Regions from separate parts of the Homo sapiens genome. Here regions 1 and 3 are each linked to region 2. Evidence: fine-mapped expression QTL. A gene starts in region 2. Each other region holds a variant in brackets. All regions are shown on one strand. Distances are from middle to middle.

Region 1 (10,768 bases), 630 kb before region 2:
GAAACTGACTGATACCCATAGCACTCAGATGGGCCCAGGGCTAGTAGGTTACTCTCTAGTGTCAAAGATAAAGCCAGACACAAGTTAAAGTGAGGACAGATTTTAAGTAGTAATAACTATTCCAACAGAGAAAACAGTCTAGCTGGAACTGCACTGAGCTCCAATTTATAAAGAGCTGATTGGTCATTTTAAAGCAAGAATGAGAGAATGGGGAGTGAGGTGAGCAGGAGCTGAGTGGAGTTAGGGAAGCGAAAACTTACAACGAAGGATAAGTCAGTCAGTGTGTTTCTACAGGGAATAAAGAGCACCAGTTGAAGAACACAAAGAACAATCAGTTAGTTAAGCAAAGGTCTGTGGAAGAGCTTCTACTGTACTTGCAGATTCCGCAATGCACCATCTTCCTCTTGATCTGGGGCTTTGTGTACTGCTTTCTTTCTCTTCTCTCCACCTCTCCCTTTTTTCCAGGCCAATACTTATTTTTCTTCATGACTCATTTGGGGAGCATTTGCATCTACCCTATTTACCGCATCTGTTTTATTTATGTGTGATCAGGCCAGCCGTGTCTGCTAGCTGGCAATTACCAAAGTTAGGATTCCATCCTCCCACAGAAATTGGAAGACAGAGGCCCCGTCCTTAGATGTTGGCTGAAACAAACAGTACATTTTTTTTGGCAGCCTTAAGTTTTCTTCGGCAGGCACTTTGAGCTGTTAGTAATGATGTTAGTGTTTGTTCAAGTCTGTATAGAACAAGGTTGAGGCCTAGTGGAGAAGAGAGCTCAAAGGAGCCTGGCTAGAGTTTGGTCAAAGACAGAGTCTTTGTCACTAGTCCGTCTGCTCACCTTGTGTCCCGGAATTGAGTGGTATAACACACAACAAAGACTGAGAGCTAAGGGAGCTTGATCATTGTCACTCGAACCTGTTGTTTTGCAGACAAGGAAGCTCCTCCTTCCTATTACTTGGTGAACCCTTATCCGACCTTTACATCTCAGTGTAGACATTGCCACTTCCTTCAGAATGCCTTCCTTGACTCCCACCAAATTAGGATGGAATCTCCTGGTGTGCATGCCCATAGTGCCTGAACCTCCCTAATTTTCTACATTTTGTCTGCATGCTGACCTCGCCATTAGATTTGAAGTTTCCAAGAACGGTACTGTTAGTCCTGCTCACAGCTGCAGCCCCAGCACTTAGGACAGCAGCTGCCACTTGAAAGGCACCCAGGGAACACTAGCTGCATGACTTGGCAGCAACTGGCTCAAGTCACCCAGGGAAACTGGCACTTAGGACTCAGTGGGTGAGGTTGAGTCACAGCCTACCTTTCTATCCAATGGAAGGGCTCCTGGCTCCCTCTGCCACAGTGACAAAGTCCTAACAGGACCCTCTGTCTGTCCAGAGATCCCAAGGTGTCCCACACAGGCCTTTCTTAGGGTGACAGTCCTGTCCCCAGGTCTCTATCCCCAGCATCCCCAAGGTCCATATCTCACAATCTCAAGAATCCAAGAAACAAATGTGTGGAGGGCTCCAATAACTGATAACAAAAATGTTGCCATCCAGGAATATTTCCATGAAGAAAGAAAAGTTGTAGAGATATGATATGGTATTTTCATCAATCTCTATGCTCAGTTCTTCAGTGTTTACTGTCATGCATGGCCTTGACCACTTTAAAGTTATTTTGTAGACTGTTCATGTTTGCCTGAGGTTTCCTCATTATTGTATTTAGAACATACTTTCTTTTTTTCACGAATACCAGAGAAATGATGTCTGTCCTTCTCAGTGGATCATTTCAGGAAATACACAATGTTGGCAATTGTTTAACTTGTTATGCTTATCATGATGTATATGTTTTCACTTCTTTTCACCCAGGGCAGGATGACAGGCTTCTCCCACGGGGCAGCTCCAGCACAGCACCGTGGCTGCCCAAAGCAGGGCAATGAACAGGACCATGCAGCCCTGTGAATACTTGGTGGGAAAGAGGCCAGTACTGTCTGCCTTAAGTGCAGGTCACCAGAAAGGTGGTACTGGCATTATGAATCTGCTGTGCCTACGTAAGTCAGTCTTGATAAGAAACCTAAGGGCTAGCTAGATGAGGAAATGGTGTTCAACTGTCACACACTATACCTGAGGATGTCAAAGGCAGAGACCCAGATTGGGGTGGTTGAAGTTGAGTAGAAAGCAGTGATAGAGAGCCAAGCGTGGGGGTGGGTAACTGTAACCTCAGCTACTCAGAAGGTTGTCGCGGAAGGATCACTTGAAGCCCAGGAGTTTGTGTTCAGCCTGGACAACATAATGAGACTCTGTCTCTAAAAATAAATAAATGTATTTTTATTTAAAAAGAGAAAGTAGTAACTGATTTATGCACTTGACAAAGAGGGCACCCTTAGGTAAGGAGATGTTTTTAGATTTCACTTCACATTCACGAAAGCCTTTTTTCAGAGGCAAATTTCATGAACAAGGATAAATCACCTTCCATATCCTTGCTACGAATAGGAAAAGAATTTTTTCCATTTTAAGGAAATGTATGATTTTAATTAAAATGAGAAGATTTGAGTGAGTTGCTAAGAAACAAGACCCTATCTGTAGCCATAGGAGCTTATACCATTAACATCTGGCTATAGATGGGTTTCCTTGGAAACAATTCCTAGGCATTCTTAAGCGTTAACACTGAGCAAGAATAAAGCCTTCTTAATAGGTGGAGACGAGGACCATAAAAAAAGATTTCTAATTGAGCAAATTGACCAACTATAAAAGCAAGCTATGCCAGCAAAAAATGATACTCAAATACAATAACCTCTTTTCAATCTGTTTTCTGCTCTGTTCTATTCTGTTCTCTTAGATAAAAGTAGTACATTTTCATGGGGAAAGAATTCAGATAGTGAGGAAGAGAATGAAGTTAAACATAGAGTTGTCCTTTTCTTCCTCCACCCTTCTGATTATTCCTCAGAATTAGCTACTATTAACTGCTTCATAGATGTCCTTTGAGACATTTTCTATGTTGACACAAGCATGTATATAATATCTCTATTTTAAACAAATGAAAAATTGTAAATCTTGTTCACAGACATGCCATTTTTTCCCTCTCTCTCACAATATGTCTTAGAGATCCTTCCATGTCAGGACATAAAGATCTATTTCATTCTCCTTGACACCTAGTTTGGACAAAGTTAAAAGAAAATCTATATAACCCATTCTCTGAATTGGCTTAGAGGGTTTCCATTCTTTGGCTATCACAAAGAAGCCTGCAATGAATATCCCTGTGGATATCTTTGCAGACCTTTTTAGGTCTATCTTTAGGGTAAATTCCTAAAAATAAAAATAGTTAAGTCAAATTTCATATGCATATTTTTATCACTATTGCCAAAATTACCCTCCAAATATATCACACCAATTCATTCTCCCACCATCAGCATAGAAGGCTTCCTATTTCTGGCCCATACTCCCGTCCCTAAGTAACACTGGGTATCATGAAACCTAAAAGTCTTCATCAATCCAGTAGGATAGAATGATATCTCATTTTTACATTTTGCATTTCTTTTATTTGGAAGGACATTACGTGTTTTCTCATGTTTGTCCATTTACATTTCTCTTTTAATTGATTACCTGTTTGTGGCCTTTGCCCACTATACTATTATCTTTTTCTTATTTGTGCCTAAGCACTCTTTGCTTACTAAGGAAATTAGCTGTTTATGAATCTGAATATTTAATTGCTTTTGCTTTTTTTCTTTAAACAAAGATGTCAGTTCTGCCAGTATCACAGGGTTGTCTCAGCCTTGGTTAAGATAATATATATGGGTTTGTCGCAGTGGCTCACACCTGTAATCTCAGCACTTTGAGAGGCCAAAGCCAGTGGATCACTTGAAGCCAGGAGTTCAAGACCAGCCTGGTCAACATGGCAAAACCCCATCTCTACTAAAAATACAACAATTAGCCGGGTGTGGTGGCATGCATCTGTAATCCCAGCTATCCAGGAGGCTGAAGCACGAGAATTGTTTGAAGCTGGGAGGCAGAAGTTTCAGTGAGCCAAGATGGCACCACTGCATTCCTGCCTGAGAAACAGAGTGAGAGTCTGTCTCAAAAAAAAAAAAAAAAAAAAAAAGGTACATATGAAAGTGTCTTTATTGATGCAAAATCCTAACTAATGAACTAATGTATATTGTTTTTTATTACATTCTTATTATCAAAGCAGGAGAGTCTGGTAGAGAAATTATATACTTTGGAATCTGAAGAATCCAGCTCAAATTCTGGCTCTGCCACTATTTGCTGAAGAGAAGAGTGACTTAGTGGCCCTTATTAATAGCCTCCTATATCTGTGCCTTTTCCCCTATAACCCTTAGTCCCCTCCCACTCTGACTCTGGCCTCAGCAATGTGATTTGCATTGACTAATCGGGCAGTAGCAAGCTTGAAGCAGAGACTTGAAAAAGTATTCATGTTTCTGCTTCTTCCATTGCTTCTCTGACATTGCTGTGAGAACATGTTTAAGTCAGCCTGAAAAGACCATGTAGACAGAGCTGCACTACCTCTGCCAAGTCTCCAGCCTTGTGAGACATCCCAGCAGAGATCAGAAAGCCATTCAGCTACCAATAAACTCATGAGCAGTACCAAGTCACTGATTTAGGGAGTGGGTATTGTCTCATGCGGCAATAGCTAACTGACATTATCTATGAGATTAACCTCATTGCATCTCAGTTTTCAAATTTATGAATGTTGAAGATAATACCACATTTATAGAACTATTTTGGGCAATAAAATAACACTAATACCTGGAATGATAACAGCCCAATCCTTACTATCAGCAAGGAAACTCAACTACAGGTAAGGTTTGGGAATGTCAGCAGTTGTTTCTGCAGCCCCATAATATAAAGCAATTGTTACAGTATATGTTTATCTTTAAGATCATCTGCCAAAATTTCCAGGTCTGCCAAAAATTACTACCCATCCTTACACAAGTCACTTAACCTCTCTGGGTTTCCTACAGCCCCCTCCATCTTCTGCAACTTTCCTATCTGGCACATTTCCTTGGCTCTTAGACTCAATCTGGGTTTGAAAAGGTTTCTCTTCACATGAACACGTATGTTTATTGCAGCACTATTCACAATAGCAAAGACTTGGAACCAACCCACATGTCCATCAATGATAGACTGGATTAAGAAAATGTGGCACACATACACCATGGAATACTATGCAGCCATAAAAAATGATGAGTTCATGTCCTTTGTAGGGACATGGATGAAGCTGGAAACCATCACTCTCAGCCAACTATCACAAAGACAAAAAACCAAACACCGCATGTTCTCATTCATAGGTGGGAATTGAACAATGAGAACACTTGGACACAGGAAGGGGAACATCACACACTGGGGCCTGTCGTGCAGTGGGGGGAGGGGGGAGAGATAGCATTAGGAGATACACCTAATGTAAATGACGAGTTAATGGGTGCAGCACACCAACATGGCACATGTATACATATGTAACTAACCTGCACGTTGTGCACACGTACCCTAGAACTTAAAGTATAATAAAAATATATATATATATATTTCTTAAAAAGTTTGTCTTTATCTCTTTGTTGAGAAACCCGAGTGCCCCCAGCCCAGCCCTTCCATCTCAGGCATCCCTCAATCCCTCAACCTTATATCAGAGTAATATTTCTAAAATGCAAGTTTACTTTTGCAGTTGACTGCTTCGGCTTCAGTGGCTTCCTCTAGCCTTAAGGAAGAAATCCACTCTCTAATGCAGGGAACCCAAGTCCCCTTCAACCTCTCTGGCCTCTTCCCTCACCACCTGTGCCAACTTGCATATCATCACACAGCTCCCAAGGTGTGCCTGCTCAAGGTCTCTGCTGTTTTCTCTGCATTAGAGTAAGCTTCCCATTACCAACTCTCCATTTTGTGTGTCTGGTCAGTTTCAACCCCTAGGAAGACTTTCCTATCCCCAGGCTTCTCAGTCTCATCACTATTGACATTTGGGGCCAGATAATTCTTTGTTGTGGGGTGCTTTTCTGTGCATATAGGATATTTGGCAGCATCCCTCACTGGCCTCTACCCACTAGATTCTAGAAGCACCCTTCCCAACTTTTAACAACCAAAAATGTCTCCAGACTTTACCAAATACCTCCGCAGGGCAAAATCACCCCCAGTTGAAAACAAATGCCATAATTCCGTTCCCACATGCACCCCCAAAAGCAGATTCAATGTTCTTAGACATCCTAGGCCTAACTCTACTCAAACATTTATGATGCTGTATGGTCAACATCTGATCCCAGCCTGTCTTTCCCACTAGACTGACTATCTGAGGACAAAAATTGTGCCTTTGGTCCCTATATGCCTAGGTCTCTGCTCACTTTCTAGAACAGGGAAAGTTCCCAATGAATATTTGTTAAAGGGGTGTGTGTGTGTGTGTGTGTGTGTGTGTGT[A/GTGTA]CATAATAGCAATGTAGAAATGGGGAACTGATGTTCCCAAATCTATCTGCACATTACAATCATCAGAGATATTTTTAACATACAAATTCCTAGATATGTGCCTAAACTCCTGAATAAGGATCTCAGGGAGCAGGAACCCAGGAATGTTTACTGTTTAAACTGCTGGGTGATTGTAATGCAGCCAGCCCACAGAAACAACAATCCTTAACAATGACCCATGAGACAACCATTCATAGACAAAATAGTGGCAACCAACCTTCACCATCTTTGCAGACCATCTGACAATGCCCACTTCCATCACTGCAAAAAAATGTGAAATATTCCTCCAAAGAAATCCTTCTGCCCCCAAAGTGCAAATTGGTTGTTTCAAAAGGTGAGTAAGGAAGTACTCAAGAAGCCTCCAGAAAAGGCTCGGAGAGCCTCTCCATATAGTCAGAGGGACCCTCCCACAAGAGTGACTGTGGCATTTATGAAAATATTCCTTTGTGAAGCAGAGCATTTGAATCTTCCTTGGCTTCCTATTCCCATGGCCTCCCCATGGCCAGAAGAGCCCTGTTCCTCCATAGAACACAGATGGCTCCCTTCTCAGGTGGCCTGCTCATTCTCAGTAGTCTGTCTTTTCAACAGAACTCAGAGGAATTCTGAGGTGGTAGACGTAGAACGTCTGCCTGCCCCCGAAGGAAGCAAATGAGGGCCTGGGCTACTTATTTCAAACATGTGCACCATCCAATGCAATGCTTACTATACATTTAAGGCTAGTAGAGTTGGATCTGGTGAAAATCTCTCTGTAACAGGGCTGTAGAGTTCAGTCCTGAAAGAATGACTCATGGCCAGAAATTCATGAGGAGTCAGGACAGTGAGAGTGGAACTGGATGAGAAAGTTGACAGGCTTGCAGAGAACATCCTCATTCCCTCTGCCCTGACAGGCTGGTAAATACATGTTAACAGCATAAGACACTATCAGTGATGGAGCCGGCATGAGGTCCTCTCCCTCCCACTGGCGGAAACCAGCCATCTCTGGAATCTTTAACGATGTCCAAATCATTAAATCCAGTCCAAATCAAGTCCAAATCAAGGCACCAGCAGGCTTGGTTCCTTCTGAGGGTTCTGAGGGAAGGATCTGTTAAGGCCTCTCTCCTTGGCTGTAAATGGTCACCTTCTCCCTATGTCTCATCACATGATCTTCCCTCTATATATGTCTGGTCCAAATTTTCCCCTTTCTAGAAGGATGCCATCATATTGGATTAGGGCCCATTCTAATGATCTCATTTTAATGTGATTACCTATGAAAAGACCCTATCTCCCTTAAGCTCACATTCTGAGGTACTGAAGGTTAGGGCTTCAACATATGAATTGGGGTGGGGGGCTCATTCTAACCCATAGCAATGCCTGACACTTCTGTCCCGCTCTGTCAGTTTCTCCACACTTCTCCACCTCCTGAGTATGCCCGACTGACTTTCTCTTTACCCCTTCTCCAGACTCCTCAACAGTTTTTGCAGAGACTGTGTGTCTCAACCTTCCAAACAAACTGTGATAAACTGGCAGGATCATGAGCTCTTGGAGAAAACAGACCTGGGTTTAAATCTGGATTCTAAGCTCTACTAGCTATGTGCCTAGGACAAGTTACTTCATCCCTCTGAGCCCGTTTTCTCATTTTATGGTAAAGATGTGCTTGGTGAGCCACATATTTAAAATGTTGCCAGTTACTTCTGTATCCAGTGAGAGGCAGGAGTCGCCAAAGAGCAAATTCTGATGTTGTTGGGAAAATAATCACTTCGGTGGCTCTCTTGAGCTTACCAACAGAAAGTGAGTCCTCACCTAATTCCCTGGAGGAAGGGTGTATGAGCCCTTCTGTGGCTGGTCATAGTCAGGTCCTTCATCATACCACATGGTGTGGTCCCTGAGAGGGAGGCAAACACATTTTCATAGAGCTAGAAAGGATCCTTAGCATAAAAGGCTAAAAATCATCTACTCCCTCCTTTTCAGGTATAAAGCAGTACTTCTCAAACTACCAGTAGGGAATAACATTTTTAAAAAAATTTCAATCGACCACAGACTTATACTTTTGGAAAAGGCAATAAAAATGTATTGTTAAATATTAAAAGGACAAACAAAATGCAAGCCACTATTTTTTCTTCAATTCAACAGATATAAAAATAACTCTGTAAAGTTGCTGTGAAATATTTCTAAATGTTTACCATTAATTGCTAAATGTATCTTTTTATAGGCTAGTAACAAAAAGTTTGTGGACAGGCCCCCAGCCAAGCACTAAATTTGAATTAACACCAGTTTAATGTATAATGAAAGAGTCTTCAACCCAAGGCATCTATCTGTGGGGTGATGGGTGATTGGGGTTAGTGCAATACTAAAATTACAGTATTCAGCTCTGGCATTCAAAATCAGGTTTTTTTTTCCATCTACAGCAAGAAAATAGACTTGAAAGTCAGGCCCTCCTTCCTAAGAGGAGGAATGAGTAGCTCCCGTTGTCTCTTTCCACCTTCGAAATACCAAGATGCAAGCATGGAAGATGAGATCACAATTTTGCTTTACGTACGGAGTAAGGAGAAGGTAGCCCACCTTTCAGCTTGGTGTGTACATTATTATTAATATTGAATAGCAGACTATTCATCAAAGTAACATCTCTCTTGTTTAATGATTAACAACTTAAAAAGTGTTTTTACGTCTATGATGTACGTTTATGTCTCATTTACCCTAAAGTCATACTTTTGTCCCCATTTTACAGATGAAAAACAGAAGCAACAATAGAATCAAGGCATTCTCACCATTCCCAAGCTTGGAGGGAAGGTGAGATGTTTTCCACAGTCTGTAATGGGAGTATCTTTGTCCCGATTACGTCTGGGAACAGAGTACGTCTGGGAACAGAGTAAGGAAGTAAATGGTGGAGTAGGAGAAACCTTGCATCTTAGTCGGAAGTCATCATTTGTTATCATCATCTTCACCAACATCATTCACCAGCATCTCTTTGGCCCTATTATTTCTAGGATCCTGTGGCAGGCAAATGGAGGACATCAGGAGATAAGGCAAGGTCCCTGCCATCAAGGACCTGACAGCCGGCTATGTGATTCTGGGCAAGTCACTAAGCTTGTTTTTACAACTGCAAATTGAGATAATAAAATTATCTCCCTTGGAGTGTTGTTGTGAGGGATTAAACCATAAAATGCACATGAAGTGCTTAGCACAATCCAAGGCCTGCAAAGCCCACAAGACCCAGTAAACATCCCCTAAGTATTTGTAATTAATGCTATATAAATTAGCCAAAAATAGATCTGTTTGCTAATTACAATGACTAACAAGTCATTTTGCATTTAGTCATTTTCCACATGGCTTCATTTGTCCCTGAAATACCTATGTTTTCAGAGACATGTTAAAATCACTAAATAAAGTTAAGAATTTTTTAACTGCTAAAATAAATAACCAAATATCACCTGAAGAGAAGGACTCTAGAGAAACAGCAAGGGCGTATCTCTGGAGTATCTTGATATCACATTTTGTATCCAGCAACAAGCATTTTCAGCACGTTGATAGCAAGCTCTGTTTCCATTCTGTGTTTGACAAATTTTGCTCCAAGGGAGAGATAGCTGCTTCCTGCCTTTCCCAGCTATGGTGGAACCTGGGATAGCCTGCGGGGAAGGAGGAGCTGGGGAATTTGTGACTCAGGGGAAAGTCAATTGAAAAGTCAGGCAGACAAAGCACCAAGGCTGAGAGGAAAAATATACATGGAAAGCTGGAGTTAGAGGGGAGAGTTGTCCAGACTTTCCAAGAGAGACTGGATCTCCATGCCAGGCAGCCAGGAGGCCACTGGAGACAGCTCTGCTGGGAAAACTCCACTGGGCAGCATAACATGACAGAAAACAGGCTCTCCTAGCCAGAGCCCCATGGTGAATGCCTCCAGCACCTCACCCAGGCTCCTCTGGGTTACACAAGGCCCATTTCCTTCCCTTGTGGCAATCTTGGCAGCAGAGAATGGGACAGTCTCCTGAGCCCCTCAGATGATTCTAATATATCCCAGGCTTTCCATCATTGCCCTTACTGAGAATCATTTGCAACACATCAGTAGCGTGAATCATCAGATCAGTCCTTCAAGCAGGGAAACCAACAATTACGCTTGGCCCTGAGTGCTCAGGGAGGAGGACGCAGGTGCCAGGTTGGCATGAAGAGGTGGAGAGACTTCTCCAGGGGGCTCCATCCTGCCCCTACTTCCATTCTCCAGGTAGACAGCATGTGACTCCCCTTGCTTACATCCTCAAGCTTCCCCTCCCCTTGATTTGCTCCTCTCTCAGTACCTTTCTATTCACTGTGGCATAATTCCACCTTGTCAAAGTCAGCAGAGGAAGGCTGAT
Region 2 (10,026 bases):
TATAGAGGACCAAATGTATTATTTGGCAAATGCACCCGTTCTTTTCAAATGTACCCACCATTTAGAAGCAATAGGAGTCCTAGTAAAGGTGACACCGTGGAGCTGTCCCTCCTTGATGCTTCGGTCATTCAGTAAGCTATGTAATTTAAATTTACCCTCTAAATGAACAAATTGCCTAGAAATTTTCCAGGCATCACCTGATGTTTCAGATGGGTGCTGAAGTAGAAAAGAAGTCTGATAACATAAGACAGAGAGAAGGGGATACTTAGGGAAGGGAAACAAGAGTCTGTGCAAGGGCACAGCAACATGCAACCATGTGAGTAATTTGGGGAATCACACTTAGCTCAGCAAGGGTGGAGTAGAGGAAGTGGTGGAGGCAGCAGGCAAGAGCTAGATTGTGAAGTGCTATGTGTACTAAACAAAGAAGTTTGGATTTTATACTGCAAGGTATGTTTAAATGCCCAGATCAATCATCCCACAAGAAAAACAACAACGAGGAATACTGAAAGTGCTTTCATAAATGTTTAAGCATCAGTTGGCTCTCAGTGGCTCTGACTCTTCTGGTTCAATAGAAGCTGACTCAGCAGGTAGGGTAACTCATTCACAACCAAGCATCCAAAAACAAGGACCCGGAAGGGGTGGGTCTCAAGAGGCTCTGGGAACACAGCAGAAGTTAGGAAGAAACTGTTTTGTTATTCTCATTCTCTTCCTGTTTGAAAGTACAGATCTACTGGCAACTTTGGGTGCCTTTTGCTCCCTTTTATATAAAAGTAGAAAATCCCAATGATCTGATGTAGTATAGCTGAGCATGCCCATTCTCATTCCCAATATCCACACTGTGTTTCTAACATATGTGTGTGCCCCACCCACCTCTGGGACCTTTTTGCTTGACTTTTTCTCTTGGCTTCCACTTCAGTCAGGGAGAATAGGGATAGGAAAAGAAAGAAATAAGGTCCTGGAAAAGCCAGTTCCTTGGGACTCCCTAATTCCTTGAAATTCTACTTGTCTCCATCTTTCCAAATAGGAAGGGTCCCTGAGCCCTTTTGTAGGAAGGAAATACATTTAATTATTTCTTTAAATCCTTGAAAACATGGGGTGCCCGCATATGTGCACACACGTGTTTGTATGTGCTTGTTGGGAATATTGCCAAGACTAAAGGTTTTAAGTGGACTAGGAAGGGGATGCCAATGCTAGCTGAGTCCTCCTCTCCAATGGAGAACTTGGCAGTGAAATGGGTGTGGTGATGACAACCCTTTAGGAGATCTGTGGGGCATGGTTCTGATTATTCCCACCTACTGGCTAAGGAGTCATCCCTTGGGCTTATCGAGGACTTGAGCAGCCTTTTCTCTATATAAGTTGCTGTCTAGGTGACTAAATGCCCCACTCACACCAGAATCCCTGCCAAATGTGACAGGGACTAGGAGGAGTCATATATCTCCCACATGGCTGTATCTTGGGCTTCAACGCACCATTCTCTCCTCCCTTTGAGTAATGTGGGGAATGTTAATGTGACTTACATTGAGCACATGGTAAGCCAAGTTTTACTTCAGCTTATCTTAAGAAAGAAAACACAGAATGCGGAGGTCCAACCTGCCAAGCGTTCTTGTTTTTAAAATACGATTCTTGGGGGAGAAAGAGTAGGAGATGAGGTAGTATTATAGTATGTATTATCATCAGCTACAGATAATATTTTCAATGTGCATGAAGAACATGGCAGTTACAATATCCTCTTTCATGAGCCACAGCCTTACTCCAACCTCTCAATATAGAGGATCAAATGTATTCTTTGGCAAAATGATGAATGATTATGTCTCAAGAAACTTTGGGATCAGTTATGAATCACAGAATCCTGTTAGAGAATGCTAAAGAGTCTACTGCATGATAGAATATTACTAATTCAGAGTTCTTACAACTTGAATTCTGTTCATTTAGCCAGGAGTGAAGGAGAAGCCAGCCATCTATAAGAAAAAAACAAACTGCTAACCCAACAGGACAGTGTGAAGCTTTAACTTTGAAGAATAAATTTTTCAGAGACTTAATAAGTCCTAATTTCTATTAGTTTGCAACTCTGCTTCCAAGTTCTCCACATTACTAAACCCTATTTACTAACTTGTGTGATAAGACTTTGTTCTGACAGCATTATATATCTTGCTTAAAGCTTCCATGTAACGCTAAAAGTTATAAAATTGCATTTAAAAAAGTTTAATTCAGATTTAGAAATGAATGCAGACTTTTAGAAACTAATGCCCATCAAATTACTTCAAACTGATTAGGCTTAGATATTTTTAAAATATCTAATCAGAAATTAGAAGATACAGCTGTGGGTTCTCAAGCCCTTAAATGGGTTTAAACTGATGTCTGTATTAAAGCTACAAGCTTCTTAAGTTGCTTAGTCCTTTACCAAATGTTTATTTAGGGTGCTTTAGAAATTCTTCTGAATAGCATCCTCAACCAGATGATTGCTTTAGCTGGTCTTTTTAGCTCTGGTCTTTAGGTCCAGGATTCCCTAATATTATAATTTTCCAGAATCACGTAAGTCCAGGTCAGGGACGATGCTGACTATAGTGTCTGTACTATCATTTACTTCTCAGGACCATTGATTCATGGAATTATGGAGGGTGGAGGCAAAGGAGGGGGAAAGGAAAAGGAAAAGGAAAATGAATCATGCTAATTTCTCATCTATCTGGCAGACAAGATTTCCCTGATCAGTCTGCAACAGGACCACTGTTTGAGAGAATGATTTAACTCCTATAGCAAACAAGTGCTGGGAGGGAAAACCTAATCCTTAGGTCATATATTCTCTATTGTACAAATTGTGACTCCAGCAGAAGGCAGCTTTCAAGAACTGAGTGGAGGGATGGCTGTGTGTGTATGCTCTTAAGACAGGCCCCAAAGAAAAGCCTGAGGGGGAAACAACCCTCCTGTCCATTAAGGGTCTTTCCTGAGGCATTCGCAGCCTGCCCTGACTCATCCGCATTAATAAAACAACAAATGATGCAAAACTGTGATGCTTTAAAATTAGGTTGGTGGATTTACATTCATTTCTCAACTCACATGATAATGGAGTAATTCCTTAGAAGACAAATAATTATTGTTACCATCTGTATAAACCCTGGGTAAGCCTGTGCTATACCTGTTTAAGTTTACTTAAACATAAACACTCATCTAAGGTATAAACAGATGTAATGAAAACATTCATAATCCCACACCTGGAAAGGTAACTAATGAGTTACATGATTTTAAATTCTCTCTCACCCTTATAAATGAATCACCTTATCCTTGCAGAGCTGCCTGGAAGACTCACACCTTAAAAATGGAATGAAGATTTTCAAATCTCACCCTTTTACCTAAGTCTGGATGAAGAAAATTTAGGTCTATAACGTTTCATTTCTAGGAATAAACTTTTGCTGAATAAAGATTCCTGGTATACATAAATTATCTTTTAAGGTTTCCAACCAAGTGTTTCCGTGCATCATTTCACCTAACTGGCAGGGAAGAATGGAAAATGAAGGTAAGAAAATATTTTTTCACCATGCTTAGTAATACAGAAACTATTCCTTTTCCAGCTTTGGGTATCTGATTCATAAATAGGTTACACAGTCCACCCTCCATCACTCAATATGAGCCACTGTCTGAAAATATTTATACTTTTTGAGGATGCTGCCACTTCATAGGCCCTTGGTGGTGGGACTTTGCATAATTAACAGATATGCAAACAACAATCTCTTTGGAGACTGGATGCAGTGACTACTGTCTCCTGCACGGCACCTTAGTCTTGAAAACTGCAACAACACAGGTCTCCTCAAGAGGGCCACTGTTTGAGAGAATGATTTAACTCCTATAGCAAACAAGTGCTGGGAGGGAAAACCTAATCCTTAGGTCATGTATTCTCTATTGTACAAATTGTGAATTCCTGCAGCCGCTATAAACAGTAATGACAGAAAGAAACGGCAGGAAAGTTTGCAAAGATACAGGTTTTGGACACCATTTGGAGAGATGACAAAGGGTCTTCCATGGAATCAGTGGTCAGTGATATGGAACGGTGAAATCATGCTAAATCCTAAAGCAAATGCTTAAGAATGAACCAAGCTCTGTGAATACTCTGCAGTCGGGCTTGTTCTCGTTTTCCTGAATCACAGACCCTATTAAGGCAAAACAGACCTAATCACATAATCGTTTAAGAATTACAGTCTTGTACAGGAAACTACAAGGCACTTACAAGTCCAAGCAACCCTAAACACAATCTTGTGGTCAAATGAAGTTTAGCCTCTTCTCTATCGGATTTCAGGTAAACTAAATTGAGCCTGGGACAAACCTGGCAGAACAAGAACAGAGTGCAAAAAAACCTGCTAATATTGAGAACATGAGAAACAAATTCCCTGGAGTCTGTGGGAGTTAGGCATGAATAATGCCTGGTGGATGAAATCCTAAGGGATCTATGAGAAGAGTTACTGGGAGAACCTGAGACTATTAACCATTGCAGACTGGGGACAAAAATGTTCTCAGATGCATTAATGGACACTTATGCTACAACCAGAAAATGCATCCATGTTAACCATCCAGCTGAATAAGTCGTCAGTGTTACAAAAATGAGATCCATATTAGGCACCTTGGAAAAAGGCTTCCTTCCCAGTTCAGGCACAGGAAAGGACAAGTTACCGCTTGACTTTATTTAACTAGGAAAACTGCAAGTGAAACAACCTTTTCGTACGCAGATGGGGTGCAAACACTTTCACAAATAAACATAGTGGCTTCTGGGGGCATTTTCTAAGTTCCTTCTCCCCACTTCACCTCCAATCCACTCCTGACAGACTTCATGGTAGGCACGGTTATAAACCTGTCACAAATACTCGCATGCACAAGTAGGATCTTGAAACAACATGCAATAAATATCCTGATACTACTTTGACATAGGGCTTTTGACCACAGCTGACCTCATCTATAAATTCAATTCTTTCTCACATGACCATGTGATGAGGATTCTGGCACTGGCCTACCTGTTCCTAAGGAGTGCACAGGGAGCCCTCAAATTTAGTTTCAGGAGCTGAGAGAAGCAAGCCCTATTCCAATACCTACACTGAGCTGCTTAATTCTTACTGGTGTCACCCAGTGGGCAGTAAAACAAACAGGATTTTTATCAGCTGCTTTCTCCTGAGGTGCTGGAAAGCAAACCTAATTTGTATTCTGGAGAGGAGTGGTGGTGTTCCTTCATCTGAACAAGTCTTCTCCCGCTCCTTTTAAAACTTTAAAACTTTTATTTAAAAGTTAACTCGTGATGAATGCCTACAGGCAGAAGAACTATTTGCTTACAACAACTGTTGTTAGTTCAGACTGTAGTGTCTAGGGTTAGCACCCCCGGAACGCACACGGACAACCACTCCGGAGAAAAGATTCTATTTCCCAGCCTGTATTTGCTGCACTTTTGCACTTCTCTTGCTTGCTTAGGTGTGTTCACAATCACATGCCCAGGGTTAAAACTTAATATTCAGAACTTGATGGAATCCGGTATATGCAAAACTCAAGGAAAAGAAGTAGTGGTGGTGGTGTGTTGGGGGGGTGCATGGGGGTGTAGCCATCGCCCCCGCCGAAGGACAGCTTGCCGAGAGCCGGCTCTCTCTGCTTCCCAACCAACATCCTGCACCCAAGACAGCAGGATCTTCTTTCCCCATCCGTTTCATGGGTGACACTGCATGAATCCAAATGACCTGCAGCCCCCGCCGTCTCCCCAGAGCTCCTTCAGGCCCCCAGCCCGTGTCCTGGAACCCCGAGGACTGCCCTGGCGAAGTCCTGCGGTGCCTCCGGCAGCCCGCAGTTACCCTACCCCGCGCATACCCGGCCCTTTGTCCCGCTCCTCCCGGCGCCTCGCCTCTCCCGCGCCCGGGCGGATGCCCCAGTCGGTGCCCGCACTCACCCGCGCCGAGCAGCCCGCCCGGGCCGCGGCTCGCTGCGCCGCTCAGACAGGTGTGGGCGCCGGGAGAGAGCGCGCGGCTCCCATGCCTGCCCCGCCGCACAGCCGAGTGCGAGCAAGCTGGCGAGCAGCGCAGGCAGCTGGCGGGTCCGCCCCCCGCGCCACCCGAGGCCCGCCCGCCCCGCCTCCGGCCTCGGGGAAGCCGCGCGGACGCCGCCCGCCCCACTGCACATAAACCGTGCCCCCCTCCCCTCGCCGCTCGCCTGCGGCCGGAGCAGGGTGGAGCAGCCCAGAGGGCCTGAGGCCGAGCGTCCCTGCGCAGGTGGGCCCCGGTGGCGCGGCAGCAGTCGCCAGTCCGGGCCTCTCGGCGCCAGGCAGCACCGGCTCTGGCGGGCTCTCCTGCCCGGGACCCGCGCGCCGTCACCCTTTGAACACCGCGCATCCCCGGGTCTGGCGCGCGGCCTCCTGAGCGAGACTACGGCCTTCGCTGCTGGGAGCACGCTGCCAGCTCGCAAAAAGACCAGGTCCCCTACAAAAGGCGACCCCTCCCCCAACAGCCTAGAACTAGGGACGCGGGCCACACCTGGTGTATGGGGAGCCCTGGGCAAATTTGAAGAATTGGTTCAGAACCTGTGTGCGCCCCACCCCCACGTACACTTTTAGCGCCTTAAGGTGCTGACCGAACTCCTAGTTTCTCCGGTGCCTCCAAAGAACAGAAACCTGTATTCCCATGGCAGGGCCACCAATGCTTTGCATTTCCTTACAGCACTCAGTGCTGTGCGTGGGGCCCAAAGCACCGGGGGTGCTTGGCAGCTTCTGAGCGGCGGTGGCTGGGGAGCCCACTGGCCTCAGTTCTTCATCGGGGCACCAGCTGGTGGAGCCACCTCCTTGTCCAGTGGGCCTACTTCCCTGAATCACTCCAAGCGGTCGTTATCTTGGTGGTGGTGGTTGGGGGCCAGGGTAGGGGGGTGTGCGGGGAGTCCTCTCCTAACCAGGCTGGAGACCTTGCCATTTAAGGTCCTAGTGTTAGAGCCTTCCTATTTAGTATAGATTACTGTGTATTGAGCGTTTTCGGTCAAGAGCTTTACATATAGGCCATTGTGGTGAAGAAGGTGCAGAGATTACACTAATTTTTATAAGGAACAGGAGGTTTGGAGAGGTTTTATGACTTGCCCAAAATCACACAGCTACTGAATGGTAGGACAAGATTTTGCACTGAGCCATGCTTTCTATCAAGCTACTTAGCTTTCCTTTCTCCTATCAAAGTCTACTCTCAGAAAGGGAAGGTCTAAAGTGCTATTTCACACCAAGGTGTTACTGATATGCCTAATACGTTGGTGTTTGCAATTACTTTTACATGAGAAAGCCCTGAACACATTATTGTGTGGTCTTTTCTTTTATTTTATTTTCAAGACAAGTACTCCCTCTGTAGCTCATTCTGGAGTGCAGTAGCAGGATCATAGCTCACTGCAGCGTAGACCTCCTGGGCTCAAGTATCCTCCCTTCTCAGCAAGTATTACACGCGTGAGTCACTGCTCCCGGCCTGGTATTTCTTAAATAGAAAGGAAACTGATATTTTCCACCATTTTAAGGGCAAATTTTTCTTAGCTTAGCTTCAATTGTTTTCTTTTAAAATGTCACATTAATATATAGAGACATAGGCCAGGCTCAGTGGCTCACGCCTGTAATCGTAGCACTTTGGAAGACCAAAGTGGGCAGATTGCTTGAACTTAGGAGTTTGAGACCAGCCTGGGCAACATGGCAAAACCCCATCTCTATAAAAAATACAAAAAACCTAGCCAGTTGTGGTGGCACACGCCTGTGGTCTCAGCTATTTGGGAGGCTGAGGTGGGAGGATGGCTTGAGCCCAGGAGGTGGAGGTTGCAATGAGCTATGATCACCACTGCACTCCAACCTGGGTGACAGACCAAGACCCTGTCTCAAAACACACACAGACACAAAACCAGATATAAACTTATGTTACAGCTTTTGAACAACTCGCAAATAAAACCAAAACAGATTTATAAAAATTTTCTTCCAGAATAATAAAATTGAAATTAGTAACGTTTCCTGGACTACTATCAGCATTGCATGGTACTGACAGCTGAGGCGTCAGTACCTTTGACTTCCCTGTGGCTCTGCCACTCTCATGATGTGTGAGGTGCCCAATGCAGACTCAATTCTCTCACCTCTTTCCTTCGTTCCATCTACCATATCTCCTTTGCCCACACCATATGTCATTGCAATGGGTTTCTCTTGACTCTAATACATTATTTAGGTATTTGTGCTGTTTCTCTCTTATTAGCATAGCAAGTGAAGTGGTAACTCTTGCTGCCAAAGACTAGTACACACAGGTGCTGCAATCAAGAGGCAGTACTTGGCATGAGATGGTCATCCCAATGATCCAGAATGTGTTTATCTTTTATTATAAAAATTTTAAAGATTAAATTGAGGATCTCTAAGTGTCTGTAGCTCCCAATTGAAGAAACACCATTAAAAGGTAAGTATCTTAATAGAGGAACTGGAGGTGCAGCTGGAAGGAAGGGAAGAAGGGAGAGATTTATCAACCATGCTCAAGTTGTATTAGAGTCACTTCAATCCAACAAATATATATTGAGCACATATTACATGGAAAACATTGCGCTAGGCACAAAATTAAAGAGATGCATATAGGAGGACCATACAGCAACATAATTAAGAGTGGCCTGTGGCATCTGACTATGGGGTACCAATCCAAGGTCTGACGCTTACTAGTTGTGTGGCTTTTCACTTAACTTTTCTGTACCTCAGTTTCCTCCTCTGTAAAACCAGGACTTTCTCATAGAGTTCTTTTAAGAATTGAATGAATATACATAGTGTGCTTAGGAGAGTTTCTTACATGGAACAAGCCCTTAATAAATATTAGGTATTGTTATATTTATCACACTTGGCTCTGCTTCGGAGTGTAGTCCTCCAGTACCACCTCAGTCAGCTTTGACATTCATTGCTCATTTTTTTCCTAGTAGTTGCAATGTTTCAAGTTAGAGTCATGGAGAACAAGATGATTATTCCCATCACTCAGAGAGAAAAACTGAGGCACAGAAGGGCCCAAGAGCACAACAGTCCTTCATCTGGTCTCAGGGACTACCGCCCACTATCCAAAGAGCTAATAGGAAGGACTCTTTAACTACAGATGTCCCACGGGGGCTCAGGGTTTGAACATGCACCACAAGCTTTTGTTGTTCCTCAGAGCTACCAAGAGTAAAATGAGAGGCTACTTCCTGGCTGTTAGGTTGTCATCACGATTGCCATAAGGACGATGATAGAACTGTATTTTGACCTCTGAGACAAATGACCAATGTAAACAGCAGATGTCTTCATGCTAAGATTAGAGGTTTGCTTTTCTTTTTGTACTCGTCCCATTTCCCTCCCCAGTGGGGAGGGGGTCGGGGGAACCAAAACCGAAATCCTCACTGCTTCTTAAGAACTCAGTTCAACTCTATAATTGTAATTCCCGAATACTTTTTATATGCGTAGCAATGGAGTTGTTCAAAATGCATTCAGGGCAAAGCCCACACATTTTCTGATCATCCACTCTGTGTAAGGTTATTTGGGCTGTCAGGGAGAGAAAGCAAATACCCCTCAGCTCGAGGAATGTATGCAATGGACATAAACAAAATCAAATATAGGAGAAAGCAAGATATCAGCTGGATCAGGATACAGACATGAGCTAGAGAACATGGAAGAGGGAATCATTAATTCCCACTCTGGCAGGTGCTGAAAGCTTTGAGGTAGAATTTGAGCTGAAGCTCAAAGCATAAAAATCTGGACATTACCTCACTGTGTTCACAAAACTACTTTGTAACACAGACAAGAAGAAAAATATCCACTGTATAGATGAGAAAATCAATGCATAAATTAAGGGAGCAGAACTAGGACTAAATTGTATCTATGCTTAGTGAATGCATACTATATGCCAGGTACTGTGGAGTATATTTTATTATGTGTAATCTTTTTTTTTTTTTTTTTTTTTTTGAGACGGAGTCTCGCTCTGTCGCCCAGGCTGGAGTGCAGTGGCGCGATCTCGGCTCACTGCAAGCTCCGCCTCCCGGGTTCACGCCATTCTCCTGCCTCAGCCT
Region 3 (10,768 bases), 220 kb after region 2:
AATATGGCGTTTTCTATGGGGTCTCCTTTGACTTAGGAGCCTTGGTAGGACATGAATTTAGTCACCTTGCCATAGTTTCCCCAGTGCATCATCTATATTTGTGTGAGCCTGAGATAGTCCCCACTTACAGTGTGAGAGCCCCAGAAAATTAGTTAAGTAATTAATGTGTGTTAGCAAACAGCTTGTTATATTACTTGTTATATTATTGTTATTACTTGTTGTATTACTTTGACTGAGAGAACTTAAGAACAGAAGGGGACTAATGGGTATTAGAGGTGTATTCTGAACCAGACATTGTTGCCAGGCTTTCTACACTATGATACTGCCAATTAATTGTGAAACTATTTGTCTCTCTCTCCCTCTGGTCTGTAAGCTCCAGGAGGGCAAGACTGTGCCTATCTTGTTCATGCCACAGCTTAGCTCCTAGTACAATGCCTGGCACATAGTAAGGCATACAATTAATATGATGCATAAATACACAAAGGACTTTGTATGATCTTCTGGTGACCTTGTGGAATTAGTATTATTAGCCCATTTTACAGATGAGAAAATTGAGGTTCTAAGAAGTTGAGTAACTTGCTTAAGGCCATACATCCAGACATTAACTGAGACAGTATTAATCCAGGACTTTCAAACAGAACTCTTATTTATATTTGAGCCAGAAGGCACTCATTTTTGGCAGTGGAACAGAAAAAAGAAGGAAATCCTTTATTTTCCATTGTTCTAAAAGTAACTCAATTTGTTCTGTTATCTTTTTAAATGAGAGAGACCGGTTATTCTCCCTTAGTTACAGTAATTTTATGTCCTACCAGTTTTCTCTCTAGCTAGGTGGGGAGGATGCTTGCTCACACAAACCGTGAATGACGGCTTTTTCTACTGTCTTTCTTTTGAAGTGTGATTCTGACTGGAAAAATAAAAACATTTGGAGGAAAGGAGGAAGGTGTGGGCTACAGTAGTCATGAAGGGCTTTACTCCAGGGGCAAGACTCGAGTTAGGCCTCAGGGATGAGTAAAATTTACCCAGAGGGTTGGACATCACAGCAACCATGTGAGCACAGCACGGTGGGGCATGAGGAAAGCGAAGAGACCCACCCATCTGGAACAGTGACAATCACATCTTGCCACTGCTTAAAAGCCCATCCCTAAGCCACAAGGCTCCCCAGCTGGAAACCAAAGCTCTCCTTGACCTGGGCCTGCCTGCATCATGCCTGCCCAGGCCTGATGAAAATGGTCTCAGGGAAAGACCTCCTCCTTTACCACTGGTCCTCTGGGATTCTGCAGAGCAGCCATGCTGAAGCAAACTGCACTGGCCTCAAGCCAAATGCCTCCTGGGCCTCCGCATCTTTGTGCCTGCTGATTCTTCTACCTGGATGCTTTTCTCCTCCTCTGCCCATCAGCAGAACTTCTACTTGATCTCAGCTCAACTAAGACCTCCTTTACAAAACCTTACCATCTACCTCCTTTGTAACCCTAAGCATTAGTCCCATTCTTCACACTCCTGACTCATTCTTTATTTTCATCTATTTCTCTGACAGACTTTCAGATCTGCACATCCTTGCCACTTCCATTCTCCACCCCATTTTACTTGGCTTTCAGGAACACGTTTCCCTTATATCTTCAGTTCTTTTCACAAGTTCTATCCAACTCTGTCTATCAACTAAAACCTACCCTTACCCTGAGTGACTGCTTCATCCAAACCCCTCTCATATGGAGGTTGCTTATTATTTCACTCTTCGGCTCCCAAGTCAGGACACAGCTAGGTATCCTTTCTTTCCCTAAAACCATTTTCAGAGCTGTTTTCCCCCATCCTTTTATTTAAAAAAACAGCTACCACCACAACAAAATCTGTTTCTCTGCTCCTATTTGAAGAGTTGGGCCATTTAGAGATATTGAACTTTTGTCCTTTTCATCACTGTCATTTACCACCTTTCAATTATTGAGGACTTTGGCACCAGCTTATAGACCTTCTCCACCCAGTCTTGCCATAACCCTGGGTGACTTCAGCATCAATATGTTGGCTTCTCCAACACCCTAGTCTTGGCTAACTGGAATACCTGTCCTCAGCTTCTCCCAGAGTCACACCCTGGACCTCGGCATCTTGTGAAATTCCACCATGTCAGAAATCAGTGATTCTAACAACACACTGTCAACCAGAGATGCTGCCGGGTCAGCTGTCCCCTCGGACCCCACCACAGTCTCCAATCCTACTCAGTTCTCCACTTCACATTTTTCCATTCACTTTTTCCAGCCATTGCTCCTACCCACTAACCTAATCCAACCCAGCTTGGGTTCCACAGGCAATCATTCCCACTTTTCCTGACAACACCATAAACTGTTTGCCCCTATACCTGGAAGTGAGGATTCCATCCCATCAGCATTTAAACATGCTCAAATATCTCCACCTTAAACCACCCCCTTTAGTAGCCAAGCTTTTTGAAAAAGTTTTGTGCATTTGCTGTTTCCATTTTGTCACAACTTTCCTCAAACCACTCCAGTATAACTCCATCAACTCTTCACTGGGTTACGAAGAACCTCCACTTTTCCAAATCCAGTAGATCGTTTTCAGTCATCCTAATGATTTGACCTTTCAGAGAAACTCAGCAGTGTTGGTCACGCCTTCCTTCCTGAAACACATCCTCCTTTGTCACCTGGTGACAACCCATCTTGTGGTTCTCCTTCTTTCTTTCCGCTGTCCCATCTCAGTCTCCTCCTTTATCCAGCCTTAAAAAGCTGGAGCTTCTCAAAGCTCAAGCCAGGCTCTGTTTTTGCTCTAAGCTCTCTCCATAGAGTAATACATACAACCCCATTATCGTTTCAATTGCCATCTTTTTGCTCATCATTTTCAACTTAATTCTTTACCCTCTAAGACCCAGACTTATAGATATGGAACTGTCCACTAACACCTCCAGATAAATGTCTCAAAGGAAAACTCAATGTATATAAAGTAAAACTTGAGATGAGCTCCTCTCCTTCCACTCCCACCCAAAACCAGTCCTGGTCTTCATCATTAGTGTCCCATTTCAGTGAACACCACAACCATTCATCCAGTTGTGATGGCAGTGATCCTTGACCCCTCTCTCTCACTCAACCCCCAAATCTCATCTATCACCAGATCCTGTGCATTTTTTCTCCCCCATGTATCTCTTATCCTCCTGCTTCTCTCCAGCTGCATTCCACCATCCTAGCACAAGCTACCATTGCCTCTTAACTGGACCATTGCAGGAAACTTCTAATTTATCAGCACATTCTTGGACCCTTCCAAAAATTCTCCTCACTGCAGCCAAAATGATCTTTTCTAAAGAACACAGATTTAATTATGCCTCTTCTGTTTAAAACTTTCAGTAGTTTCTCATTGCCCTGAAGCTGAAAACCTAAGTCCTCAGCAAAGTCACCTACACACTGCACAGTCTTGGTCCTGTCTGTGCACCTTCCCTTTTCCAAGCCTTGAACGTGGTGTTTCTTTGCCTAGAAAGCTGCTCAACACCACCCCTACCCCGAGCACCACCACTTGGCCTAATTAACTCTTTTTTGTTGTTATGTTTGAAGATGTATTATTAGTCTTTATCACAGTTTTTTTCACTGTGGTGAGAACATTTGCCATGAGCTCTACCCTCTTAACACATTTTTAAGTGTATAATATGGTATTGTTATCTGCAGACACAATGTTATATAGCAGATCTCTAGAACTTCATTTTTCATAACTGAAATCGTATACCCATTGATTAGAAACTTCCCATTTCCTCCTACCTCTAATCCCTGGAAACCACCATTTTATTATTTGCTTCTATGAGTAGGATTATTTTAGATACCTCATGTAAGTGGAATCAGGCAGTATTTGTCCTTCTGTGACTGGCTCATTGTGTTTAGCATAATGTCCTCAAGATTCATCCATATTGTTGTATATTGCAGGCATTCCATATTTTTAAGGCTGAATAATATTCCATTTTATGTATATGCCCTTTTATCCTCCATTTATCTGTCAAGGGACATTTAGATCCTTTCTACATCTTGGCTATTGTGAATAGTGCTAATACCTCTTTGAGATTTTGATTTTAATTATTCTGGGTAAATACTCAGAAGTGGCATTGCTGGATCATATGGTAGTTCCATTTTTAAATTTTCAAGGAACCTCCATACTGTTTTCCATGGTGGTTACACCATTTTACACTCCCATCAGCAGTGTACAAGGGTTCCATTTTTTCCATAGCCTCACCAATACTTGTTACCTTTTGTTTTTTTGATAATATCCACTCTAACAGAGGTGAGGTAATAACACATTGTGGTTTTAATTTGCATTTCCCTAATGATTAGTGATGTTGAGCATCTTTTCATATACCTGTTGGATATTTGTGTCTTTTCTGGGAACATGTCTATTCAGGTCCTTAGCCCATTTTACAATCAGGTTATTGGAGGGGGTTGCCATTGAGTTGTAAGAGTTCCTTATATATTTTGGAAATTAACTCCTTATCAAATATATGATTTCCAAATACTTTTTCCCATTCTGTAGGTTGCCTTTTCACTCTGTGGATTGTTTTCTTTGCTGTGCAGAGGCATTTTAGTTTGATACAGTCCCACTTGTTTATTTTTACTGTTTTTGCCTGTGCTTTTGATATTGTATCTATAAAATCATTGCCAAGTCCAATGTCATAAAGTTTTTCCCCTATGTTTTCTTCTAGGAGTTTTATAGTTTCAGGTCTTACATTTTACATCTGTAATCCATTTTTCAATATAAGATAAGGGTTAATTTCATTATTTTACATGTGGATATACAGTTTTCTCAATACCATTGTTGAAGACAATTAACTCTTTATTTATCTGTCATATCTCATTTTGGATATTGCTTCCTCAGGGAAGTCTCTTCTAATCACATACCATTCCCAACACAAAGAAAATGACATCAGGACTCCTGGGGTTCCTTATGTCCTTTAACAGCATCCACTGCACCTGCTTTGTAGTATTTCTTCGAATGAATTAATTAATTGGGTGATTATTTATTTAATAGCTGTCTTTACTATTAGAAAATGAACCTTTGTTTTTCCCAGCTAACAACCACTGCCAGACATACTTCATTATACAAAGTAGATGCCCTACAAATTTTTGAGGAATGAATAGCATCACTTTATTTGATAACCATTTTCGTTTGAATGACAAATCACTACATCTTGTATTCGGTTGGTGCAAAAGTAATTGCAGTTTTTGCTTTTAATGGCAAAACCCACAATTACTTTTGCATCAACCTAATATCTGCTGTGTCAACTCCCCCAGTGGAATGTGAGATTTAGGCTTCATCATCTTTCTTTCCACGTATACCTAGCACTATGTATATCACACAGTCTGTGCTCATTAAATGAAAGAGGGAATGAATGAATGAATGAATGATTAGGCTGAGTAAACAGGGTGGGTCTGGTGGTGGACAGCTCAAAAGAGACAGCATAACCCTTTCTAAGATCCTTATCTGTAAGCCTTGGGTTATCT[G/A]GTTTGCATAAACTTTCAGCCATAAAAATGCTTCGGAAATTTGTTCCCTATAAAAAGCCAGCCTCTGATCTTGGTTTCTCACCAAGTTTTAACTGCCACTAACGCCCAGATACTTAACTTGAAGCTTCTGTTCTGTCTTCTTTTTTTTTTTTTCCTTACCATGGATAATACAGAGAAAGCCTTTTGTTTCAGACTCGGTGGAAACAACTGGGCCTCTGTGTTGTGTGCAGGTGAGGCAACTGATTTTCTCTAGTTATAAACTTACCCAGTAGCAGGACTCCCGTGGGGTTTTCTTCTAGGGGGAAAGAGATCTCACTACAACAGTGTCGGACCAGTGCTATCATTGTGCTTTAGCAGTATGCAGTTTTTATATTTTAAGGCACTAACATTAATAGATAATTACATTAAGTAGCAGTATTTTTCCTTCTTGTCATTGCTGCTCATTTAAAAAGTCCTATCTTTACTAATAAGTCAGCACTTATCCACTCTCCTTAGGAAATGCTCCAAATTGAATTTCTATTGAGATATTTCCCAAGGACAAGGTTGTCACCTCTACTTCTGAATGTGTGTTAAGGATTAGCATTTGTACAGGACTTTTATCTTTCTTCTGGTGCAGTTTCTCATAATCACCAGGGGTGCAGGTAAAAAGCCCTGGAATCAACATTTACAGGTAGGGGCCAAGGACTTGAATTTTAACCCACCAGCTAAGGTGCTTCTGATGCACACTGAATTTTTAATTTTAAATGTAAGTTTCAATCAATGTCTTCTTCATCCTCTAATCCACTATACTGATTAGTAGATGGGCACAGAAGGTCATTCCCAACAGAGGAACTACCACATGCACACAAAGAGGTATGAAAATGCCTGCTTCTTCTGGGAATGGTATAGTTTGCTCTATTAAAGGCCACCCATGGAAGAGTGGCTGGTGGCAAAGCCAAAAATGATGCACAGCTTATGAAGAGCCTTGCAGGCTTTGCTAAAGATGTTTTAAGTTAGCAAGAAAATTATCAGATTTGGTTTTTGGAAAATGACAGTCTGGCAGAAGTTCTAAAAGGTGTATTCCAGGGGCAGAACAGTAGGAGTGAAGACTAGAATTCAGGAGTTGCAGGATTTTAGTTTAATAGCAGACAAGGTGTGATTTCAATATTGGAAAGAACAGGGATTATAAGGAGGATGGATAACAGAGGAGGAAATTAGAACTATTCAGGAGATAGAAAATCACTGAACTTATTAATGACTTGACTGCATATATAGGTTGAGTGGTGAGGAATCCAGGGTGACTCTCCAGTTTTTACTGGGTTACTGGGTAGCTGGTGGTACCATTGCTGAGTAGGGAATGCAGGAAGATGAGCTTGGTTTGGGGCATGTGGTGTTTGACATGCCTCTGAGACATGTATGTGGGGATAGCCAGCAAGCAGATGAATGTATGCATCTGGAATTAAAATGATTCTGGGGACATAATGCAAAGCATTGCTCTTGCTTGCCATCAACTTTTTACCCAAACTGCTTCACTTAAAATGCAATAGTTGACATTAATTTAGTGAGTCCTTTCTAAGCATCAGGCACTCTGTTGCACACTTTACACACATTATGAGTTATTTTTTTCCTAGGGGAGAAAACTGAAACTTGAAAGGTTAAAATATACCTAGGCCATGCAGCTAGTAAGGGTCAGAGTTGACATTCAAACTTTGGCAGTCTGATCCATCACTCATAATCATTATCCTATGCTACAGTATTCCTCAAAATGTTTAAATCACAACCTATCGTTAAAAGTACACTTTATACCACAAGCTAGTACACATACATACCAATTACACATGGATGCATGTGTATACACACACATACACACACAAGCAAAAGTTTAGCAAAACAGTACTTTTATTAAATGTGAGGCAACCTGCTATTTTCTACTGAAATCTATATATTTTTTTAGATGTTGGTTTCTCCTTACTATTTCACGGCCAGAGTTGGATTGAATTTGACAAACCCTGCTGTATTTTATTCCCCTGGGGAGAATATTTCACTTCAATTCCCAGACTTTGTCATTCCTGCCTTTTGGAAGAGAACACTTAAATGTTGTTGTATGCTTCCCCCTTTTCCTCTAGAGAAGGTATCCAAGGTTAAAAGCTGGGATATTGTGGGATAAGGCCGACCAGGAAACACCTACTTTGGTAGACTGATCAAACCTTGTCTCTAATGTGGCTGACAAAGGTGATTGCAAAATGTCCAAAATCACAACAAAGAATGCAATGCTTAAAATTTGTGCAAAAAAATGATTATTTTGCACAAATGGACTGCAGTGGCCAGTATGGATGGCAGTGGCCAGCAGCACACAGACCTGTGTTTACATTCCAGCTCTGCTACTTATTAACTGTATAATCTTGGGTAGGTTTTCTATTTCGTAGGGATGTGGCAGAAGGACAAAACTGAAATAGTGCCTTAGTTCATTCTATACCTACCACAAGAGTATTTGATATTAAGACTGAAGTAGTGTTAATATCTTTATTAATTTAAGTTATAAAATACAGACCCACAAACTGAGCATTCATCTATAAAAGCAAATTAAAATTTCCATACTATTCAATGATGACCCAATCAATCATTCAGTCATGTATTTAGTCAATCAGCATTAATTTAGAACAAGCTATTACCTACTGGTAATTAAAAAGAGACTTTAAATATTAACTTTACTTACCAGAAGATACAGGTTTTAGAAAAGCCTGGTAGCCAAATGGCACTAAATGTAGTCTCAGGCATGCCATCATTTATTTTGAGGCATTTGGAGGAGAGGTCACTCTGCAGGTCTCTGTGAACATCAACATCGCTTCCTTCAGGGTCGACAATGTCAATCTAGAACAGCAGAGCCACACTTGCAGGAATTCCAGTGACCTTTCCGGAAATCAAGAATGGAAAGGAACAATTTGACAAGGTGCATGTAGCCCCTAAACATATAGATTCTCGAGCTAATCATGTTTATGAAATGAGAAAATATTTTTAAAGATTCTCAAATTCATAAGTGCAAGAATTAGATTCTATCTCAGAAAGGGACAAAGAAAACAACTCAATGTTGATTGTATCAGCTAAGCACTGGAAAGAAGGAAAACTCAAAAGGTTTGAAGTTCCAAGGTTCCATATTTTCTTTTCACTTTCTTTTAATATAAGTCTAATAAAAAATGGGAATGCCATTCAAACAGCATTCCCAATAGCTGAACTTCTAACTTGGAATCCATTGACCTTTGAGTTTCTCTATTAATTTTAGATCTGCATTAGGTCACTATCACCAGTTAAAATTTATCAACCACCTATCCTTAAATTCCAAATAAGTGGTACCCAAACTGTAATTATTAAGGAAAATGAATAGAATGGATTGAGGATAGAGATTAAAGGAGGAGGAATAAACAGGGCAGGAAATTCTAAGGACATTCCTAGGCTGCTGTGCCTCTCAGAAACACCAGGTTCATGAATCGGTTGTTCTCCACAGTACTCAGCATCTGGTAATGGCCTGGTCACAGCTGTGTTTAGTGAGAGCCTCAGATGTTCCAGCCAGTAGCTAGACACATGACACTCAGGGAGCTTGGCTATTATGATCTTCAGTCCCCCACTGAGGACACTGAGAACAGAGAGAGAACTTTAGAAAGTTCCCTGTGATCACATGGCCAGTTGGAGCAGAGACATTATTTGAAGCCAGGAACACCAACTCCAAGGCCTGATCTCCCTTCTCTGTGGCCCACTGCCTCTCATGGGCAAGTTTGGACCTGCACACCTGAGCTCTAGTAAATGTACCACTTGTGCTATTCTGCTGAGCATTGAGTCTGCTGGGCACGAAACCAGCCTACATAATTTGAAATTAATTCTGAAATATGAAAGGGTATAAAGAATACCGGTTCAAATGAAAAGATCATTAGACTGAAACTCAGTGAAGGCAGGGGCTATATATATTTAGTCTCTTAATGTATATCTAATGCCTAGTACAGAGCTGGTACTCAAAACATACTTGTTAAATGAATAATTCATTTAATATGAATGAATTAATGAGCCAACAAGGTGAAATAGAACTCAAAATTCAAGTCTCATTTCTAGAACTTGCTAGAGCCATGATTTTAGGCAAATCATTGAACTCTCTCAGCCTCAACTTTCCTATCTGCAAAATGGGAATGACACTTTGACAGCCTACCACATAGGGCAGTGGTTCTAATGAGTAGCAAAGTTTCAGAACTACTATCATAGCAAATAAAACTGCTTTGTAGACCCTAACAAAGCAGTGAAGTGTAAACAGTTGTTACAAATTCAGTCCAAAATGGCCTCTGGATTTTGGAACTCCTGCTTCTTGGTGTCAAGACAGAGAGGGTGACTGATCGCTGTGATCTCCTGTGCACCACAATGGTCCACTTTCTTCAGGACAAAATGACTTCCTTCCTGGTTCACCTGATAAGGTGGCAGAGTTGAGACTGAAGCCCAGGAGAATGAGGATTTGGTTCATATTAGGGCTGGAACAGGTTAACAGCCATCTGTTGGACACTTGCCCTGTCAGATGAGCTTGTCCTTGGTTGTCTCGTGTCCAGTTCTGGCACCCCGCCCACTTATTCGCACGCACCAGGAATGCATGTACAGTGCCTATTCTGAGACCCTCCCAAAGTGTGTCTGTTTGTTTTCTTCCTTCTGGTCACAGTTCATCTTTTGACCCAGTCCTCCCAAGCTGAGTCCATCAAAGTGCTGTTGTGTTGCTGGAGGAAAGAGGCTACTTCCCTTGTTCTCTGCTGCTCCCCTGCCTGTAACCTTCCTCTGCTATTACTTTGTTGCAGTCCAGCTGACTCAGAGGGCCATTAGGGTGCCAAGAACAGTATTATTTAAATTTTAAATAATAGTCTCTTGGGAAGAGAGGGTCATGAAACATTCAGAATAACACAGGGAATTTTGCCAAGAGAGTGATTCATAATCTTTCCAACTATCCACCTCTGTTCCCTTGTTCGGTCGGGATGGACAAAATCCTAAAGTCACCAAGTATTTCAGGAGCAGATATGAAATTTCTCTTGAAAAGAAATGGAATCTCTTCCACGCTGGTTCTTATCCAACAACTTCGCAAAAACTAATCTTTCAATAGCAAAACAATTGAAATAGCCATTATTCTCAAATGTTGTTGTATGGCATTTACTAGCCACACACCCTTGACATGTCATTGACCCATCTAAGCCTAGATATTTCCTCCTATAAATGGGGATAATAAAACCAGCCTGTCTAGGATCAAATGACGTAAGCCATATGAGAGCATTTTAGAAACAACGAAGCAGTAAAAA

Evidence for each region. PIP is the estimated chance that this variant, and not a neighbour inherited with it, causes the effect.
Region 1: its variant is fine-mapped to the expression of PRSS23 in prefrontal cortex (CommonMind, PIP 0.95).
Region 3: its variant is fine-mapped to the expression of PRSS23 in visceral fat (GTEx, PIP above 0.99).

Annotation. Positions count from the first base shown.
Region 1 is chr11:87,422,060-87,432,827 of GRCh38, reverse strand. All of the region lies in intron 2 of LOC107984361 (a long non-coding RNA gene), which reads right to left. Among named protein-coding and RNA genes, the nearest start is that of LINC02711, 290 kb to the left of the region's middle. The variant A/GTGTA (reference allele first, on the strand shown) is at 6,408.
Region 2 is chr11:86,796,537-86,806,562 of GRCh38, reverse strand. It overlaps PRSS23 (serine protease 23), which reads right to left and starts at 6,021. Exons shown (of 2, transcript NM_007173.6): 1 at 5,912-6,021.
Region 3 is chr11:86,577,769-86,588,536 of GRCh38, reverse strand. All of the region lies in intron 2 of ME3 (malic enzyme 3), which reads left to right. Among named protein-coding and RNA genes, the nearest start is that of ME3, 89 kb to the left of the region's middle. The variant G/A (reference allele first, on the strand shown) is at 5,475.